2 separate regions of the Homo sapiens genome follow, and region 2 is linked to region 1. The links come from fine-mapping of genetic effects on gene expression. Tissue or cell type: CD4 T cells. Region 1 holds a variant in brackets; the other region holds the start of a gene. All regions are shown on one strand. Distances are from middle to middle.

Evidence for each region. PIP is the estimated chance that this variant, and not a neighbour inherited with it, causes the effect.
Region 2: MACIR starts here. The variant in region 1 is fine-mapped to the expression of MACIR in CD4 T cells (Kasela 2017, PIP 0.95).

Annotation. Positions count from the first base shown.
Region 1 is chr5:103,888,900-103,897,087 of GRCh38, forward strand. The region is part of intron 3 of LOC105379107 (a long non-coding RNA gene); the gene reads left to right. It overlaps LOC101930276 (a long non-coding RNA gene), which reads right to left and starts at 2,498. Exons shown (of 3, transcript XR_427752.4): 1 at 2,433-2,498. The variant GA/G (reference allele first, on the strand shown) is at 3,381.
Region 2 is chr5:103,253,851-103,262,038 of GRCh38, forward strand. MACIR (macrophage immunometabolism regulator) reads left to right here and starts at 4,913. Exons shown (of 3, transcript NM_033211.4): 1 at 4,913-5,046. RefSeq lists silencers at 4,574-5,083, 5,294-5,673.

The sequences.
Region 1 (8,188 bases):
AGCACTCTGGGAGGCCGCGGCGAGTGGATCACGAGGTCAGGAGATCCAGACCATCCTAGCTAACACGGTGAAACCCCGTCTCTACTAAAAATACAAAAACAAAATTAGCCGAGCGCGGGGGCGGGCGCCTGTAGTCCCAGCTACTCGGGAGGCTGAGGCGGGAGAATGGCGACAACCCGGGAGGCGGTGCCAGAGCGCAGTGAGCAGAGCTTGCAGCGCTCCGAGCACTCCAGCCTGGGAGACAGAGCGAGACTCTGTCAAAAAAAAAAAAAAAAAAATTGTCCTAAATATGTCACAAACTCTGATGGATGTGCATAATATTACCTTTAATTTATCATAAGTAAATCTTGTGATGCTTACACAGAAGAAAGGAGTCTGAAGATTGTGAGATCACTTTGGTTTATCCATAGCTTTTATTTTGCAATTTCAGTAACTTATCTCAAGTTTCAGTCTCTAACTTGTCCTCCCTTGATAAAGATTTCTTAAGGAATGTAAAAACATTATTTTCAATACATCAGTAAACTTGCAGTGTTTCCTAATTAAAATCTAAACCTTTAGGCATATAGCTTTTAATTGTGACTAATGTGAAATAAAATTAAATTTGGCCTAAAGCTGTCTCTGTGGATAGCAAACTATGACCTAACTTAGTATATAAGCAAACTGCAACCTAACTTAAGGATGTAAACAAACTGCAACCTAAATTAAGAGTATATTCTTATAACAAATAGCTGAGTCACAGCCAATCACAGCAGCCACACTTGAGCTAATCAGAGGCCGCCAACTATTCAGACCAGGCTCATATAAGGGAAACACCTAGCCATAACCAATCTATTTCTGTATGTCAGTTTCTTTTTCTGTCTATAAATATTGCCTGCCCACATTGCTGGGTCGAGCTCTGTGAACCTCTTCTGGTTCTGAGTGCTTCTTGATCTGTGAATCATTATTTGCTCAAACTCTGCTAAATTTAATTTGTCTAAATTTTTTAAGAGTATATTTTATGGCATTCTAGTTGTTTAATTGTTGAAAATATAGTGCAGGCTTTCCTTAATATATATCACAGACAGCTTTCTGAGTTATGGTCACAGCACAATCAGCTATCAAATTGAAACTGTTTCCCTCCATAACCTCAGCCTTGAAGTTTTTTCTTGATATGAACCTTTGTCTTTCTGTTTTCAATTTCCAAATTTTTAAATGGCAAAATTACAATTTTTTTCCTTTTCATTATGACATGATTGAAAAATCCCCAATCAATACTCAATACAACATTTACTATTAATAATATTTTAGGCTTATCATGGAGTTTCTTTTATGATCAGAGTAAGCATGTTATTTTCCAAGAGGAATATACAAACTTTTCCTTTTGAAAGCATTGGTTAAAATGAGGGAATTTTTATAAAAGTGAATGGAGGAAGAGCAGAACCAATGAAGCCAGAAGATATATTTTACTTAGAAAAGCAGACACAAAATTTATAGTGCTCTCTTTAAATAATACATTAGTTTGACCCTGCTGTGCTATATATTTTTATATATTTAATGTGAACTTGGGGACTCATTTAGGTTTGGACCAAGCTAGTCTTACCTGTATCTATACCAGTGAAGCTGTTGCTACTTACAGGACAGAAAGAAGCAGTGACCCATACATGTCAATCCTCTGAGACAAGTTGAGTTTTATTAACTGTCACAAAACATTTTCTTTGTGTAGGGTCCAAAGCTGCATTCAATATATTTAGGAGCTTTGTCATATGGCATACGTTCTACTGGTCATTAATAATATTAATACTTCTATATTTTGTATGATTAATAAAATTGAAATTATGTGCTTTGTTATAATGGAAAGTGAAGAACTGATCATCATTTCCTGAAATATACTCTATTGGTTTAAAAATAAACAGCCGAATAAATACCTTGCCTTCAAATTTAAGCTATAGAAAAACTCTTTTCTCTAGACCTGATTTACACCTACCATCAGGATTTGTTTTCTTCTTACTTTTTTTTTTTTTTGTAAGAATTGACTAGTTAATGTTTACAAAGTATTTTGAAGGTGTAAAGTGCTGGCAAGTGCTAAGCCCAATAAAAAGTATTTTATACAAAATCTGAGAGCTGACTTGTACAGCATCCAGCTTTGTGAGTGAATAGAGCAAAGACGATTAAAATCAACATCATTTGTAATTTAAAGTACCGTGAACAACAAAGAGGATCCAACTATTGTTTTCGTTTGACAGGCTGCAAATATAGATTGCTGAACAGCGGTAGTCTGTCAATATAAAGCATTTAGCACTTCACTAAACAACTTGAGAATTTTCTACTTTAGGAAAAGAAATATGAAATCAGATTTGGTGTAACATTATTATTTTAATGGATTAACCATATCATTATTAAAAAGAAAACTACAACTCAACAAAATCCAAGAAAGTCTTTGCTATAGAACTTACCAGTGTGGTGAATGTTCAGAAAGATGAAACCCTTTCCATGAAGGCTTTCCCTAGCTCCACCCATCTGGAATGTGCAGAGGGATGATGACAGAATTCAATTGCACGGAAGAAAGAAAGCATTGTATTCAAAAAAAGCATTGTATTCAAAGAAAATACTGAGAATAGATAAAAGGTTGATATTTGTTGATCACAGACCACTCGTGAGGTGGAGCTTTGGAATGCAGGTTTCCACAATCCTAGTTTCATAAAATGAAAAATATTTTATAGTACTCTAATAAATGTTGATTGAGTCCACAAAATATTCTTAGAATTTTGAGGGAATGCTTTTACTTACTGTATTTTTATAAAACCAGTTCTAAAAAATAATTTAACTCTGCTCTTAGGGAATATACAGATGAATAAGGCACAGATCACAAACTCACAGAACTAGCAGTAGGGAAATTATAATAAAATGCGTAAGTAAACACCTATACTACAAAAGAGAATGCGGAAGTTAGACAATTAAGATATTAATTTGATATTTTGGGAATTTAGAGGAAGACATTCTGCCTCATCAAGGGAAATCAAATAATACTTTTAATTAAAATTATGTAGTTCTGCCAATTTATATACCTGTCACCTTTAAATTATTTCAGATAAAAGGATTTAAGGGCTGGGCGCGGTGGCTCACACCTGTAATCCCAGCACTTTGGGAGGCCGAGGCGGGCGGATCACGAGGTCAGGAGATCGAGACCATCCTGGCTAACGCAGTGAAACCCCGTCTCCACTAAAAATACAAAAAATTAGCTGGGCGTTGTAGCAGGCGCCTGTAGTCCCAGCTACTCTGGAGGTTGAGGCAGGAGAATGGCGTGGACCTGGGAGGCAGAGCTTGTAGTGAGCCGAGATCTTGCCACTGCACCCCAGCCGGGGGGACAGAGCCGAGACTCCGTCTCAAAAAAAAAAAAAAAA[GA/G]AAAAAAAAAAGGATTTAAGGTAACAGCAACAATAAAAAGATTAATTTGTTCATTAATTCTATAAGTATTTATCCTGACTCTGATTGTATTTATATTTTTTATGTTTCTGTTGTTGTTCTTGTTTTGAGACAGGATCTTGCTCTGTCACTCAGGCTGGAGTGCAGTGAAATGATCATAGATCACTGTAGCTTCCAACTCCTGGCTCAAGTGAGCTTCCCATCTCAGCCACTGGAGTAGCTGGGACTACAGGTGCACACTACCATGCCTAGCTAATTTTAATTTTTTTTTTTTTTTTTCTGTATAGACAAGGTCTCACTAGGTTGCCTAGGCTAGTCTTAAATTCCTGGCCTCAAGAGAGATCCTCCCACCTCACCCTCCCAAAGTGCTGAGATTGTAGGTGTTAGCCACCAAGCCTGGTCCCATCCTGACTCTCACAGTATTTAAAAACAAACATCTTGAGTTTAGAAAATGCATTGCTTTGTTGGTAAATCAAAGCTGTGTGTGCATGGTTCAGAGATTAATTAATTTTTTTGTGATACATTACTTAGATTACTATGCTTGAGGACAGTCCACTCATTTTTTTAAAGTTGCAACAAGATTCATTCCCATATTTTTACCTAAATTCTGGGCAGATAGGTTACAGTCAATATGCTTTAATTATCCCATTGGCCAATGGACCTTCTCAATAACAAAATGAGATATGACCTGCCCCCAAATGTGAAGAGATCTAGATACTATCGAAGTAGAAAAACTATGCTTTATTACCATTGTAATACCTTCTACTGATAATCTTATTCTGTAGCTTGTGGCCCCCTCACACCCAGGTTCCTCATGTTGCTTCTTAATCTTCCATCGTCCATATTCCTGGGACCTTACCAGTTTCTTTTCTGCTGCTAGAGTTTATCATAACTCTCTTTTAATGTACACATTCAATGAAAAGTATTTAAAAATTTTTAAAGTATAAGGACATTAACAAAATCTCTCATGATCTCACTATCCAGGATAATTATTTTTTAAACTATTTTGGTACATATCCTTCAAACCATTTTTTCCAACCCGACTTCCTTTAAAAGTTGTTATAATACTATATAAATACATATTTACTTAACCTTATTTTATCAACTTTCTAAACATTTATTCTGGAAGGTGTTGATGGTGCCTTTTCTCCATTATTTAAATTTCAAGAAATAAGAAATACCAAATGCATGTAAATCTGCAATATAAAAAGAAGTTAATTCACAAAGCTCAAAACTAAAAATATCATATGTGAACAATGCCAACATTACTCTTTGCCTAAAATATTTGAGTATGAAACCTGTATCCATTCATGAATCAATATTTGTTGAATGCTCATTAAATGCTGTGAGAAACACTGCGAGGAGCACAGTATTTTGCAATGCAATGGGATGTGATGGTCAGGAGTACTGCCCCGTCAAGCATTATTTGTGTGATCGTGGAGTAACCGTTTCTATACATGTCAGGTTCTTCACTAGACTTTGGGCTCCTTGACTTTAGGATACATAATTCATTTTTGAATCACTAGCACCTAACACAAAACATAACACATATTGGGTGGTTAATGAATTGAATTAAACAGCAGGACTATATTGGATAATTTTTATCCAACTTAAATTCTAATTTTGATGAATAATTCCTAAGCTATATATCAATCATTCATCACTAAAAAGACACCTAACTTTGGTTTTTCACATATATCAAATTCTTATACTGTGACAGCCAATGTGTTTTAAATATATTGGCTGTAACCTTCACAAACTCTAAGGGGTAAAGGCCCTTGTTTTTATGATTTTATAACTGAGGTTTCGAATATTAATTTTCTCAAGTTCTCATAGCAAGTGAAGAACAGTATGTGAATCCAATTTCAACACCCACTATAGCAGACTGTTTCACAGATGATACCTTAAAGGAAGGCACCGAAGTTCAGGCGACTAGAACTTTCAGAAATTAAAATCATCACTAGCTTAAAAGCAAACTGTAAAGGTCCTATATTTGCATTTTTTTTTTTTTCGGAGGAGGGACCAACAATTGTGACATGCTACTCTAGATGAAATAACTCAGCTTTGTTAAGTAGAGGTAAAACATACTAGAAAGTTTTCTTGTACTGTATTAATTTCTCAATCCTGCATGTGAAGAAGGATATTTTCAAAGTGAGACTTATCCCAAAAGACAGTGAATAAACTAAAAACAACTTCTTTTAAGGTTAAAGTAACAGGGTTTTACAAGCTTGAATATCTTATTCAAAATATTCCAGATTGGAGGACTCATCTGTGAAAGTCTAAATGAAATTTATTCCATGTGACTAGAATTCAGACTTAAGAACAATGAAGAACAGTGAATGGAAATTCTTAGGGAAGTGAATCTAAGTCTTTAAATCATTTTAACAATTACGGCTACCTGTCCCACAAGAGGGCAGGTGATTGTGTCTTTGATCTTTGTTACCAGGGCCTGGCATCATGTCTGACCTTGTAGTCACCTTTCAATGTTGATTTACTAAGTAAATGAATGGATGTTCAAACAAACAGCATAAAAGGCTACTTGGTAAGGTAGTGGGTTCCTATTAATGGAAGATTAATTCTCAGTCTTGATGGGGACTCAGCAGTATTCTGTGGAAGGATTCCTGAAGAGCCTAGTATGAGAAAACCCTGGGACTAGGTAAAGTACAGATGCTCAGCTAGGAAAACCTGGCTGCCAGGTCAGGGTGGAGGTTAAAGTTGGACAATGAGCTAAGAATTCCTGCTTAGAAAGTAGATCAGTGCCAGTGCTGGGGGTGGGGCTGAGGCTGCAGAGCTGTACTAAGAGGTTCCAGCTGTCAGAGAACAGGCAGGCCATTTACATGAGTAAGTCTTAGATGCCTTTGATATACAAGATTTTAGCATTTTGATGAGTTAAGATTACTTGAACACTTGGAAAAATAAAATTGCAGATCTTTTCATAAACTGTTAGTAATTACTAAAAAGAAATCATTTCCAGAAATAGTATGTTCAAATCAGTGGCTCTCAAATATGACAGTATAACTCCCAACTGTGAGTATTAATTCTGATTTAGGAGTGGGATGAAATTATTTCTAAGTTAACTTTTCACTTAAAAAAGAAAAAAAAAAACAGCCCTCTCCTCTCTTCCTACTACTAATAGAATATAATTATACAGTTTTTAAAAGTTTTGGATGTTCTTTGATATATACAAATATTTCTTCACTTATATTTATGAATGTCAACAAAATAGTTTAAAAGTGAAAATTTAATTAACACTTTTAACTTTTTTTGCATTATAGTAAATAATAGTCTGATTGTTTATATGTTAATTATGTTATTATCTATAATTTTAGTTTATAGGAGCCTAAGGTATCTGTTTTAATATTTTCTAAAGTTAAAAAAAAAGATTCTCTCCACTTTAAATGTCAATTTTTCTTCTCTTCCAAATAATAAGAACTCTCAAATTTAGCTGACTACCTTGCTGCCCTCCTCAAAGACTGGATTCCTCCTACCAATGACTATGGACAAATGAAAATATTTTGATCAATGAAAACTAAGTATTACATGTAACTTTCAGGAAATATGCTCAAAGGGATTTTGAGATATCCCTTCTCTTATTCCCTTTTCTTTTTTCCTGGGATGTGGATAGGATGACTAGGGCACAAGCAGCCATCTTGTGCAATGAGGCAGGACTGAGAATGGTGGAGTATCACAAAGCTGCAAAACAGCTCTGAGCTGTTAAATTTGAATAATACTGAAAGTGAATAAATATTTATCGTATTTGGCATCTTATACTGATGTTGTTATTGTGATTGCTATTGTTAACGTTTTATGTAACTGAATGCTGATACATCAGAAGATTGAACTGTCATGAATAAACACACCCACATATTCTCACATTTGTGTAACACTGTTGTAACTGATTTGTATTGGAGCTGCTGAGCAACCTTTACATCTCTGACAGTGACACAAGTTTACCAAATACCTTTGGCAATTTGAACCATCATAAATTGACATCCATGACTGATGTATTTCTAAATCTTACCTTCTGGGAAACAGGAAAGCTATCTCAAAATCTTTCTCCAAACCTAGTACTCTCTAAGTTGTTAAAATATATATTTGGAAAATGAATCATATCTAATAGAGGGAATTTTTTAAAATAACATTTTTAAAATTTAGATAAATTGCCATATTGTCATTTGAAGTCTGTAATAATATAAAAAATTTGTGATAAATATTATTTTATTTTAATAACACTACAGTTTTGGCTATTCATTCACATGATGTGTAGTAGAGTGCTTGTATTGAGACCTAGCTCCTTGTTTTTGCTCTGTGGTCTGATATCTTTTTATACCATGAGTTTGCTTTTCAACATAGACTTGACTGCAATAAGTCAACTGAAATTTTGCTGAGTACCGTTTATGAAACCTGGAGTCAAAGGCTCCTTCCTCGCCTTTGGGTGCTCAGGGCATTGTGCCAATATTTTGATTTGAGGTCATGTTATTCCTTTATTCATGCTGTTCACAATGTGGCTATTAAATGTATACCTATATTAAGAATTCCTGCTGTTATAATAGGTGTACCAGATAAAACTCAAATCATGCGTAAATGCTCCATAGGGAAATTGGGCAAAGTCTGTGAAACTGGTTTTTTAAAAAGCATTAGGGATGTTTTAAGAACATCTTTAGTAGAAGCACCTAAATTACTTTTCTTTTTAAGTCTTGTTTTAAACAATAGTTCATCTGAGGCAAGAAAAATGTGTTAAGATTTTTGTGATTCTAAGAATATCTATGAAAGAAGATAATTGAGAAAA
Region 2 (8,188 bases), 640 kb before region 1:
ATTGGAGAATTAAACTGGGCATGCTCAACCTAGCTGTTTTCATTACCTTCTTGGCAATAAAGTGCCTGCGTGGGAGTAGGTGTTCTCTGTTCCTTAAAACCTAAGTCTTACCTTGGCAGGCTTTGATGTGAGGAGGCCTGCCTGGCCCGGTTTTGCCTCTTATTGGGTAGGTATATCAGTCTAATTATGGGATTTAAAAAATAGAACCACTGTAATTGTACATTAAACTATGTCCTCCAATGTTACAGAAACAATTGGCGCCACCTTTATGCCTTTTATTTCTCAATTTGTTTGGAATGGGGCAGGAAAGGGGGTGCTACTTGGGCCCTCTTGAAAACCATTTCTCTCACCTCTTAATTTATGAATGAAGGGGCTGAGGCCAACAGAAGTAAAGTTTAATTTGCCCAGATTCAAGTGGTAGTTTATGAGTACCTGTTCTGTGCCAGTCTAGATATTGTAAAGGATACACGTATAAACACAACTCAAGTTTCTTAAGAAGCTTATAATTTAGTGACCAACCGGAGGTCCCACAGCAAGCTGGAACTGAGAAGTGATTTCTCTGTTGTTTATAATGCTGTTATATTTTTGTTTCCTCTATTTTCTATCTTCTTTTTTTATTGATATAATTGAGTTAAATAGGCTTTTCTATGCAAATTATGGAATTTAATTACATTTTCTTTCTATGAAAGAATATTTCTAAAAGCACAGATTTTAATTCTCTGAACTGCTGTCCTCCTCCGCACACAGGAGGGGCCCTTTGAAGATTATCAAATGGTATGCTGGTAAACTGGCTTTCTGGGGGGTGGGGAGATTAGAGAGAAATGGGAAGCCCTGTTTATAGAATTTGCCAATTTCTATGGTGTAAATACTCCTACCATAGCTGATTTCAAGCTACTGATGATTTAACAACCAGTTTGCAAAGTTCCTGAAAATTTAGCAATCAGTACTTCTGAGCCAGATACAAGATACAAGCTGGCTTCAGCAGACCTTACTACAGGTTCTTCTCCCACTCCTCGCAGTAAAAATAGGCTAAATATTTACTGAGCACCTGTTATATGTCAGTCTCTGGGCTTTCTTTGGGGGTTAGACATAGTCTGAGACCTCAGGGAATGTATAGTTTAGAGGGGGAGATAGTATATTTCAGCACTGTGTGGTATTAGGCCAGGGAAATGAGAAATATCAGTAGGAATCAGAAAACTCTTCTTAGAGGTGGTGACATCTACATGAAATCTGAGGAATGGCAAAGAATTAGACTGAGAGGGAGGGGTGGAGAAGAATGCTCCACAGGAAACAATTATGTACAGGCTTAAATAATGAATAAGCAGAATGTGAGTGTGGAGTTAGAAGTGGTCTAGCAAGAGCTGAAGGGCAGCCTGAATTTCCCTCCTGAGCGCCCACTCCACATATCTGGCCTTCTGCTTGACACCTCCATGAGGATGTGCCACAGAGTCACCAAATTCAACATATTCCAAAGTAAGCTCCTTCCACCTTTCTCCTCCTCAGCTTGGTCCACAATACTAACCGTCTCTTACTTCTATGGCTGGATAATATTTTGAGATACTAATTTATGATTTTTTTTCCAACTTGTATTTACCCCCTTGTTGCCTTCGGGAGAGATGTGGCAGGGTAGAGAGGAGTTGCCTGCAGATCATTTTTTCATTCTGGCTCTTACTGAAAACAACCTGAGCCCCCAGAGACAGAATAGAGTTTGCTGGCAATGGCAGAGTGTCTGGGAAAAAAAAAATGAAGAGGAAGGATTTTCCTTAAGAAGTGATTCCCTTGTATCTGGAAAGAAGAGGATAGAAGTCAGTATGTCCCAAGGCAGTGGGATTTGAGCCCTGAACTTGGACCACCATAATACCCTAAACATAAATGACCGAGGATGTGTGAGGCTTAGCAGGATGGTCCCAGATCTAGGAAATTCCTCTGGCCTCAGGTGTGGTGCCGGAGCCAAAGGGAGGGAACCAGTGTATAGGGCAGGGCCGTCTCGTCTATAGGCAGGTTGTGCACTGTATCATGGAACCATAGGTGGCAGCTCCAGGAAGGAACAAAGGAAACCTCTGTGGACAGATGACTGCAATCCGAAGGACCTCCCCTCCACTCCCTGCCATCATCACCCATTCATGGTCTGGTCTGGCATATGCTCTTGGAACTTTGACCCTGCTCGAGGGAATGAGGGAAGAACTTTACAAAAGAGTAAGGCCTTTAAAGAGAAATAAAATCAAGTGCAGATTCACGTTCTATGTTCTTCTCCTAGTCTCCTCAGTGTCTCAAAGGGCTGATCCCCGTAGGCTGTTTCCCTGGCTCCCATGGCAGGTGTATCAGACTTGGCCAATGCAAGGCACTGGAAGGAGATTGGAGGGCAGGAGAGGAGAACGTATAGTACATTTCCCCCTTCTCCCTCCCTAGATTGCTTCTTTGGCAGTGGTTGTTTCTCCTCTATGGCCGCAGCTCTCACCAGGCTGGCCATGCTGCCTGGGCCCTGGACTCCAATAACCCTGCCTCTTCTCTTATTTCTCCAGCTAGAGGTCGCAGTTGCTAGTTTCTGGATTACTGTGCCATCTCCTGATTAGCTTCTGACTTTTCCTATCACCTACGTTACCAATTTCTTGCATTCAATTACTTCTGTAGATACTCAAAATGGTTTCTGTTTTCCTGGTTAGACCCTGCTTGAAACAAATGAGTTTATAGAAAAGAAGGTAATGTGGTATTTCTTGCACACCTGTCTTTGTAGATTCTGTTTTACATCATTATGTTGTTATCAAATTCACCTATTCTGTTCTCTCAAGCTGGTTGTTTGCTAGCCGACATCATTTACATCAACGTAGTATAATATTTCCCAGGCAGCTGACATTTTAAAGTCATTTTAAAGGGATTTTCTGGAAAGGATGCCTTGAGGCAAAGACATAACTTACACAAGGAGTGTGTGAGATGGAGCTTCTGAGTCCCCAAATTCAGAAGGCCTTTCAGGGCTCTGGGTCTATTCTACATTTGGGCCTAACCCTTTATATGAATGCCATTTTTCTTTATAGGTTGAAGAGATCTTCCTAAAACACTAAAAAGCTCTGGGAAGGGATTCTGCATTAACTTGCACCTCTTATATGCCCCTCAGCCACGGCACTTGCAACCCACATCCAATCCGAGTGAAGACAATACCCAGTCAGTATCTCTAGGTGGCATAAACATATCCTTGATGGAGCCACACATAAAGCTATTATCAACCATTACTGCATGGTGAATTGGTTTATTAGGTGTTCTTTGTGACACTCAAGAACTGACTTAGGTTCTGATTGGGTGAAGATTCAGGGTTAGGATGGGAGCATAGAACACCACCCAGGGAGGGAGGCAATTTGGAGACAATGCCCTCAAGAGAGCTAGCCTTGAGCCTAATAAACTAAGAGGGGAACTTTATTGCTTTTGGCCAAAGCACACTGCCAAACTCTCAGCGCAAAGGGCAAGTACAAGACATTCTTCTGAAAAAGTTATAAGATTTCAGACAGGAAGAAATGAAATTAAGTCTCTTAATATAAAATATACAATGTTTTGGAGGTGGTTTTATGAGAATGATCATCAGGACAATACACTATTGTGTCAAACAGATTATAATCGGAAATAATTCTCGGTGTATTCTCCTAATGTACTGATGCAAAAAAAGTTTCTTCATTTATTTATTCATATTATGTTGTGCTAGCTTCTATATTTTTGAAATTACATGCAAATCTATGTCGGGAAAAAAAGTAACTGATGTTTTGTAAAATTGTTTAGGGAACATTCCTTAAAACTTATTCTTCCCTCTACCTTCCTTTACTTATTTTAGGGCACATAAGCAGTAGCATAAAATGGCTTATAGCTGAGCGGCCTCCGGGAGTGGTTCTGTTGGACTAGAGGTGTTTATATATTTTTTGCCTTTATATTATCAGGAACATATGTAGATTCTGGAACAAGTGTGAATCAAGACTCGTTTAAACTTATATTAATCTACTCCAGATTTATGTCTTTTATGTTAAGATAAAGCATTTTGTCTTTTAAAAAATAAAACTCTCTTGATTGGACACTGGTACCGAAATTTATAACACTTATAAACAATTTTGGGGTTCACCGACTGCGTACACATTCAGCCTTAGCCACTCAGTAGGCATATGACCTAAACTTTCTGCATTTTTAAAATGTGGATCATAATTGGTTACTTCCTCACAGAATGGTTATTGAGAGATGTAAATTTGGATATGCATGCCAGTAAATATTCTTATTGCTGAGCTTAACCAGTTCGGCAGAAATGTACATGAATTGAGAGAAGCAAATCTTCATCAAAGAAAATAATTTATTACAATAATAGACAAGATCAACATTTGTGCAAATTAAAAAATAGTTAATCCAATCAGAATCTGAATTTGAACTCCCCCCCCCGCCCCACCCCGCCACCTTCACTGGGTATTACGAGTTTTCGTAGACTGATCCTATAATTTTTAATTTCATGGCCTTCTAGTTTTCTGTACTTTTGCTTAGTGCTGAGCCCTTTAAGCAGAGACTCACAAGTGACAAATATCAGCACACCACTTAACTGAGGAAGCCGGAGTGTTCCCAGGTCCGCAAGTTGGAGCTCTTTAGTTGGAGTGCTGGGTTTAGACTAGAGAGCGGGTGTTGCGACTCCTCCTCCCCACCACCAGTCAACAACCCCGCCCACCCCCGCCAACTTCTTCTGGCCTCTTAGCGCCTTTCTGCAGCCAGCCGGCCCGCCCTTCCTCCGGGTGTCTGAGAGCTGGGCGCAGGAGGCGGGCTCAGCGCTGACGGGCTGCGCCTCTGCAGCCAGAGGGAGGAGGCGGGAAGGCGGGCGGAGGAGGAGGCGGAGGAGGAGGCGGAGGAGGGGGCGGGGACTAAGCAGGGCGGTAGCTGGCGCCGAGCGCGGTGGGAGAGGAGAGGGTACCCGGCTGGCTCGGCTGGCGGCCTCTGCCTGGATCTCGGCGCCGCAGTCCTGCGCCTCTCCCGCCCCTGTCTCCCGCTCCGCAGCCCCGGGCACGGCGGAGGCAGCGGAGCCCTGGGCCATCGGTAGGTTGCACGGGGACGACGGCTCCGTCTGTAACCTTTTGTGCTGCAGAAAAGGTGGTGGTTATGGGGGGCTTGGGGGAGTGGGTTTGCCCCAGGCTCCGATCCCCAGTGCCAGCCCTAATCGCGGCGCCGCCCCTTCCTCTCCGCCTCGTGTCTGGGCCGGGCGCACGATGCCCGCGGTGCTGGGGAAACCCGGCCGGACCAGCTTCTGCGATGGGCGGCGGGGCGGCCCCAGCGTCCCTTGGCCTTGGTGGACCGGTTCCCAGGCACCCGAAGGGGACTGGGGTCTGGTAAACTGGGTGGGGCCCGCGCGGGGTGCGGGGAGCTTGCGGTTCCCTGGCACAGGGGTGGGGCCGCAGACGCCGTGAGTGTGCAGCGCGTGTGAGTGTGCGGGGGCGTGCGCCCCCGTGTGCGCGCGTCGTGCGCTCGCTGGGGAGGTGCGGGGACTCGGCGACCCGGAGCGCCTCTCCCGCGGTGCCGCGGTGCGGAAGTCGGGGCGCGTTGGCGCGCACGCTCGCTCGCTCCCTCCCTTGGCCGCTGTTCCCGCACCGCGGGGCAGCGGGCCTGGAGGCCCCTTTGAGAAGTAGCTTTCCCCGGCCGGCGGCACCTTTGGCTGCGTGCCCGGCCGCGCTCAGGGTGCGACTGCCCGGGTCAGATAGCACCTCAGGGCGAGCCCCGGCGGTCTGATCTCGCCGACCCTCCTCGTCCTGGTTGCAACCCGCGTGCGAGGCCGCCCGCGCCCTCCGAGTGTCTGCCGGTGCAGTGGGGGTGGACTGGCCGGCTGTGGCCGTGTGTGCGCGTGTGGATTGGGGCCCGGTCCGAGCCAGAAGCTTAAGCGGCAGATGTCGGGCATTGCCACCCTCGCCCCACCTGTCGCGGGTGGACTTTGGGGCAGGTGGGAAGCGGAGGAGAGGGGTTTCGAGGCGGGTGGCAGTCAGACCTCCAGCAACGCGGCCCCATTGTGAAGCTGCCAAACTCTCTCTAGTGGTGGAATCTGCAGGTCTCCGCCAGAAAGGAGATGGGAACGCGAAGGGAATGATGGCCCCGTCCTTTTCCCCTTGCTAGTGTTCCACACGCTTAGGGACTCCCTGCCTCTCCTTCCACCTCAGTTTTCAACCCAGTGGGTTACTGATTTGGGTGGAACCAAGATTTCCGTGTGTGTGTGTGTGTGTGTGTGTGTTTGTGTGTGTGTGGTGCACAGGTAAAGCTGGAGCTGGGAACTTTTTATTTGAGCAGGAAGAATGGAGGCATTTTACAGTGTGCTTGCCGCTCCTAGCTGAAAGAACAATTCTTGCATATTTCTGATGTTACTAGACTCATTTTCCTTTTTTTTTTTTTTCCGAAGAGCCAACCTACAATTTAGGGTTGTTAGTTGTTTTATTTTCTCAAATCCTGTAATGCTGGATTGACACTATAGAGGTAGAAATGACCCTTTTGCAAAGTTTATTTTCCCAGTCATTTCAAAATATAGTATTGGTTATTACGGCAGAAGCTTTTGGCCGCGATTTATGATTACACTATTAAGTTTAATGAATGTGTCACAGAATCCTCAGTGTTTTAATTATGTAACTGTGAATGCATTATAAACTGAAAAGTAAAATGAACAGGATGGAATATAAGAGTTAATGAATACAGAGACCTGTTAATTTGATAATAATTGATGTATAGAATATGCTTTTGCTAACAGTTTATTTAATTGCAAATGAAAGTGTTAGTAATTATTTCAGTGTATAAGATATATTTATTGATATTATATAACAGTCAATGAATTTGCTTATTTTCTTTGTATATTTCTGTGTATTTTAGAGAGCTATTATAAAATTAACTCAAAAGTACTTAATATGGTTAGAGTAATAAAGCTTTATGTACAGGGTTTAAAATTTCTTTGCTGATTTGTAGCTGGGGGTGAGGTGGGGGATCAGCTCCTTTCCTCCAGAGAGAACTTTGATTTTGTCACCAGCCTATCAAAATGAGTACCTGGTTTTAAGCCTTCCCAAAGATTAGCCAATTCCACAGTGTACACCTGTTCCATTTTGATGATACTTCCTAAGAGACAAATTTCTTGTAAAGGCTGCATGTTGACCTTTAGTTCCACTTACTGTCGGTCATATTTGCAGTGAAACTGAGTATTTTTCTAAAAGTAGAAGGATGACACCACGTGATAAGAAGATATTAGTAACCTAGGTTTAATTTTTACTAGCAGAAATGGAAAGATAATGAGTGCTGCACTTTAAGGGGGTGGATTGCTATTAAAAGAACTGATACTAGAAAGAGAAACACATTTTTGTCTTACTGAACGAATTATGGGTTATCTTACAAAGTTGGCAAGGTTAATGGTTTGTTTGTAAGGTCAAGGATGGTTTCAGAAAAGTCACACCCTAGTTAACTCTTCTTAAAGAGTATTGATGACTTACTTTTTGCAAGTTGCAAATGGTAAAGTAAGAATATTTGAAAGAAGCCTCTAAGATGAGCATCTAGGTGCAGCTAAACATTTTGTTTTCATTGTTGTGTTGTACTTTGACAGTTAAGCCATTTTATTTCTGCTTAGTGTTCAGTTAGTATTCCTCCAGAGATGTTTTGGTTCATCTTTTACTTGTTTTTAGTGGTCTTTGAGATTAGTGGTTACAAAATATTTTCACTATTTTGAAAGAATTTTTAAAAATTGATGTTTTTTTTCCAAGTGCTTTTCCATTAGTGGTCTCTTCTTAAATAGCCACTCTGAAAATACTACCTGTTTTTCTTTTTCTTTCTTTCTTTCTTTCTTTCTTTCTTTCTTTCTTTCTTTCTTTCTTTCTTTCTTTCTTTCTTCCTTTCTTTCTTTCTTTCTTTCTTTTCTTTCTTGAAAATGTTTTGGTGGGCTTCAGGTTAGGGCCATGAAAAAAATGAAAATAAATGTTTTGATAGCTAGAATTAGAACTCACAGCTTCTACTGTACCAATTTCTCTGCCTAAAATTTGTCCTTTCATAATATAAACTTTAATGATGAATGTGATTTTTATTTACCAATATTTGAAAGGGCTATGTGCTGGTCCTCATATTTATAGTCTTATGATTTGTGATCAATGTTGTTAAATTTTTTCTTACTGCTGTTTTGTTAGTGATCTGTGCTGAAGCTTGAGATTCACGACTTTTTTGTGTGTTT